Regions from separate parts of the Homo sapiens genome. Here region 2 is linked to region 1. A link means that fine-mapping ties the variant in region 1 to the expression of a gene that starts in the linked region. Tissue or cell type: unexposed skin. Region 1 holds a variant in brackets; the other region holds the start of a gene. All regions are shown on one strand. Distances are between the middles of the regions.

What was found. PIP is the estimated chance that this variant, and not a neighbour inherited with it, causes the effect.
Region 2: SLC52A1 starts here. The variant in region 1 is fine-mapped to the expression of SLC52A1 in unexposed skin (GTEx, PIP above 0.99).

Annotation. Positions count from the first base shown.
Region 1 is chr17:5,054,338-5,057,093 of GRCh38, forward strand. No RefSeq gene overlaps it. Among named protein-coding and RNA genes, the nearest start is that of SLC52A1, 20 kb to the left of the region's middle. RefSeq lists an enhancer at 1,217-1,511. The variant G/A (reference allele first, on the strand shown) is at 1,111.
Region 2 is chr17:5,033,981-5,036,608 of GRCh38, forward strand. It overlaps SLC52A1 (solute carrier family 52 member 1), which reads right to left and starts at 1,446. Exons shown (of 5, transcript NM_017986.4): 1 at 881-1,446; 2 at 497-733; 3 at 1-378. The coding sequence starts at 626. The region is part of intron 3 of LOC105371501 (a long non-coding RNA gene); the gene reads left to right.

The DNA of each region.
Region 1 (2,756 bases):
TTCCCAGGACCTACTTCACAGTCCTGTGTTCCACTGTAGGCCCTCATTCTCTATATTTGTATGTACCTAGATAGTGTGGGTCTAGGCTCTGGGGACAGAGCAGTGAAAAAAAAAACCTAACAATAATCCCTGCCCTCGTGAATTATACAATCAGAGGAGAAAACAAAACAATAATTTAAAAAGTAAATAAAATATGTAGTACGGGCCGGGCGTGGTGGCTTATGTCTTAATCCCAGCACTTTGGGAGGCTGAGGCAGGTGGATCACCTGAGGTCAGGAGTTCGAAACCAGCGTGGCCAACATGGCAAAACTCTGTCTCTACTAAAAATACAAAAATTAGCTGGATGTGGTGGCACATACCTGTATTCCCAGCTACTTGAGAGGCTGAGGCAGAAGAATCGCTTGAATCCAGGAGGTGGAGGATGCAGGAGCAGCCACTCCCGTGCGGGTGACAGAGCGAGACTCCGTCTCAAACAAAAACAACAAAAACAAAAACAAAACAAAACAAAGACAACTGTTTAGAAAATATAAAGTGAGAAAGGGGGCTATAAAGTGTGTGACTGGAGGGAGGTAGGACACTGAACTATTAGATAGGATGGCAGACTTTTGGGTAGAGTATAAAAGAGGTGAAAGAGACATAAGGGCTCTGGAGGAAGAGCATTCTAGGAAGAGAGAATAGGATATGCAAAGGCCCTGAGGAAGGAATACGTCTCATACCATCCCCAGACAGCAAGAACATGGAGGCTGTTTGTTGCATTTCCCGTCCTGCATTACAATAAAAAAAAAAAAAAAAAAAAAAAAAAAAGGCAGGCCTCTAGCAGCTCGAAATAGCCATAACTCATCATCATCACTCATGATAAGAACTCAGCATTTGGCTGGGTGTGGTGGCTCACGCCTGTAATCCCAGCACTTTGGGAGGCCGAGGCGGGCAGATCACCTGAGGTCGGGAGTTCGAGAACAGCTTGACCAACATGAAGAAACCCCGTCTCTACTAAAAATACAAAATTAGCCGGGCATGGTGGTGCATGCCTGTAATCCCAGCTACTCAGGAGGCTGAGGCAGGAGAATTGCTAGAACCCCCGGGAAGTGGAGGTTGCGGTGAGCCAAGATC[G/A]CGCCACTGCACTCCAGCCTGGGCAACAAGAGCGAAACTCCACCTCAAAAAAAAAAACAAAAAACCATAGATTTTTAAGGCCTCGGCACTGCCATACTATGACATGGGCCTACCCTGGGTGGTCATTGTCCCATCTTGCACAGCCCCCAACCTCTTCTCTGGAGGACAACGACAGCACAAGAAAGCGCTCTGAAGATGAGCCGCATCACCACTCTTCCAGCTCACCATCGATTTGGAAGCCTAGAGAGGATCGGCCTTTCTAGGACAATAGACGGTTCCTTCTCCTCACCTAGAGTGGCCCTAAGAGGACGAGGGCGCCTCCCTGGTCCTCCAGGGGAGTGTGCATCCCCAGGTGCACAGGGAAACGAGCTCTCATCCTACCACCCTTGGGCTTTTACAGATGCTTTTCTCCCCTTCACTTTCTTTTTCATTTCTTTTCTTTTCCTTTTTTTTTTTTTTTTTTTTTTTTTAATTTTTGAGACAGAGTTTCGCTTTTGTCACCCAGGCTGGAATGCAATGGCACGATCCCGGCTCACTGCAACCTCTGCTTCCGGGTTCAAGTGATTCTCCTGCCTCAGCCTCCTGAGTAGCTGGGACTACAGGCACCCGCCACCATGCCTGGCTAATTTTTTTGCATTTTTAGTATAGACGGGGTTTCACCGTGTTAGCCGGGATGGTCTTGATCTCCTGACCTCGTGATCCGCCTGCCTCGGCCTCCCAAAGTGCTGGGATTATAGGTGTGAGCCACCGCACTTGGCCTCTTTCTTTCTTTTTTTGGAGTTTTGCTCTTGTTGACCAGGCTGGAGTGCAATGGTGTGATCTTGGCTCACCACAACCTCTGCCTCCCGGGTTCAAGTGATTCTCCTGCCTCAGCCTCCCGAGTAGCTGGGATTACAGGCATGCACCACCACGCCCGGCTAATTTTGTATTTTTAGTAGAGATGGGATTTCTCCATGTTGGTCAGGCTGATCTTTAACTCCTGACCTCAGGTGATCTGTCCCCCTCGGCATCCAAAAGTGCTGGGATTACAGGCGTGAGCCACTGCGCCCAGCCTGGTCTGTGTTTCTTTTACTGCTGTCAGTTTCTTGTTCAGGTTCACAAATTTGTTATATATACATAACAAATATAATATTTAATATATATATACTTTTTTTTTTAGCCTCACTCTGTCTCCGAGGCTGGAGTGCAGTGGCATGATCTCGGGTCACTGCAACCTCTGCCTCCCGAGTTCAAGCAATTCTCGTGCCTCAGCCTTCTGAGTAGCTGGGATTACAGGTGGGTACCACCATGCCCGGCTAATTTTTGTATTTTTAGTAGAGATGGAGTTTTGCCATGTTACCCACGCTGGTCTCAAACTCCTGAGCTCAAGTGATCCACCTGCCTTGGCTTCCCAAAGTGTTGGGGTTACAGGCGTGAGCCGCGGCTCCCAGCCTACGGATATATATACTCTTAACTACAGTCTGTACCAGCCTGGGCAACATGGTGAAACCCGGTCTCTACAAAAAAATACAAAAATTAGTCAGGCAAGGTGGCGCGTGCCTGTAGTGCTCTGAGCATGCAGAGCATTATATTAAGTACTTTACTTCAGATAACTTTGATTTTACATGTCCACCTCTTCCATTAGACTGAGTGTAACTCCAGTGTGC
Region 2 (2,628 bases), 20 kb before region 1:
GGCGGCCCACACCTTGCACTAGGGCCAGCACACAGGGGAGTAGGGCACTGAGACCCTGACCCAGGAAGAAAGACCGTAAGAAAGGAGGTGGCAGGTGGCTCAGGAAGGGCAGGAAAGTGACATTAGAGGTACAACAGGCCATTGCCAACACCAAGGCCAGAGTTAGGAAGGCCACAGAGTGGAGCTGCCCTGCCACTGGGGCCACGTGGTGCCACAGAGGGGCCAGCAGGGCTGTGCCCACTACACTCAGCACCTGTACCACCTGGATGGGGACCTGCTCGCCCTTGCCCGGGGCCAGCTGCCTCCACAGGGTCACCACCAGCAGACCCAGGTTTCCCAGCGCCACAACCACAGAGAGGTATGAGGGGAGGCTCCAACCTGCAGGGAAGGAATGATGCCATGTCAGGAGCACAGTGGCTAAGGGACAAAGAGCTGCCACAGGCCACCTTTCTGGGCATACCTGCCCCACGCTTCCCTGTACCTCCCTCCCACTCACCCTCTGGAAGGTCTTTTACCACCACAGGCAGCTCCACCCAGATCCCGTTCACAGCAGCCCAGGAGCCCATGCCAAAAAGGGCCACCAGCAGGTGGGTCAGCACCAGACGGCCCAGCGTGGGTGCTGCCATTCAGCCCAAAGCTGGACCCTCCAGGACAGGGCAAAGGTCACAGGCAGGTCCTTCCCTAGGTAGGTCCAAAGATGCTTTGGTTCTTCTGGAAACTGAAGACCTTCTAGCTGGAGGGAAACAGACAGGCTGGCAGGTAATAGGCTGGTGGGACAGAACCGGAGTCAGAAGACAAGTCGGTCAGACTGCTAAGACCAGGGCAACTGGAGGGAGAGGTGGCCGGGGGCGGGCGGGGAAGGTGGGGAGCCAGGACTTACCACGGGGCACCGGCTGTGCGTTTGGGTACAGCGACCCAGCAGTGCCGGCAGGCAGACAGGCAGAAAGCTGGCCCGAGGTGCAGCTGCCCCAGAGGAGCAAAGAGGGAGCTGATTTTCCTACCCACAGAGGACCCGGGGTCCAAGTTGTCAAAACAGCTCAGCACTGGCCGGGTGCGGTGGCTCACACCTGTAATCCCAGCACTTTGGGAAGCTGAGGAAGGCAGATCGCCTGAGGTCAGGAGATTGAGACCATCCTGGCCAACATGGTGAAAACCCGTCTCTACTAAAAATACAAAAATTAGCTGGTCGTGGTGGTGGGTGCCAGTAATCCCAGCTACTCAGGAGGCTGAGGCAGGAGATTCACTTGAACCCGGAAGGTGGAGGTTGCAGTGAGCCAAGATCACACCACTGCATTCCAGCCTGGGCGACAGAACGAGATTCGGTCTCAAAAACAAAACAAAACAAAACAAAACAAAAAAACAGCTCGGCACCAACACGCTCACCCTCAAATGGACCCCGGGACAAGGGCACGTCTCTGGTGCCACTTGCAACCCTAGCGCTTTTGCGACACTCAGGACTTGCTGAGGCAGGTCGAGTTGGAGAGGGGAGTGGCTGGGGCGGGCTCTGCCCGGAGGGGCGTCTCCGTGCTGCCCTCCCGCCTGCCTCAGGGGGGCATCCCGGGAGCCGCCAGGTGCGCAGGGGTCCCCGCACCTCCGGATCCGGCAGTCCCCGGACCCAGCGGCTGGCGGTCTGCCTGAGAGGGAGCCCCCTCCGCCGGGGAGGCGGCCCAGCCCAGAGCCCACACAGCTGGGGTTTTGTTGTTTGTTGTTTTAATTAATTAATTAATTTTGAGACGGGGTCTCACTCTGTCACCCAGGCTAGAGCGCAGCGGTGCGCGATCGCGGCTCACTACAGCCTCAACCTCCCAAGCTCAAGGGATCCTCCCACTCAGCCTCTCCCCACCCCCCCACAAGTAGCTGGGACCACAGGCGAGCATCACCATGTCCAGCTAATTTTTTTTTTTTTTTTTTTTTTTTTTGGTAGAGACAAGGTCTCACTATGTTGCTCAGGCTGGCTTGGCACTCCTGGGCTCAAGCAATCTTCCTACCTCAGCCTCCCAAGTAGCTGGGACTACAGACGCACCACACCTAGCTACCGCCACGCTCAGCTGTTTTTACACTTTTTTTTTTTTTTTTTTTTTTTGAGACGGAGTTTTGCTCTTGTTGCCCAGGCTGGAGTGCAATGGCACGAGCCTCTGCCTCCCGGGTTCAAGCCATTCTCCTGCCTCAGCCTCCCGAGTAGCTGGAATTACAGGCGCCCACCACCATGCCCTGCTAATTTTTGTCTTTTTAGTGCACAGGGTCTCGCCATGTTAGCTAGGCTGGTCTTGAACTCCTGACCTCAGGTGATCCACCTGCCCCGGCCTCCCAAAGTGTTGGGGATTACAGGCGTGAGCCACCGTGCCTGGCCAGCTGTTTTTACACTTTTAAATGGTTGAAAAAAAATTAGCTGGACGTGGTGTGCACACCTGGCTAATTTTTGCTTTTTTTTTTTTTTTTTTTTTTTTTTGAGACGGAGTCTCGCTCTGTCGCCCAGGCTGGAGTGCAGTGGCGCGATCTCGGCTCACTGCAAGCTCCACCTTCCAGGTTCACGCCATTCTCCTGCCTCAGACTCCCGAGTAGCTGGGATTACAGACGCCTGCCACCACGCCTGGATAATTTTTGTATTTTTCGTAGAGATGGGGTTTC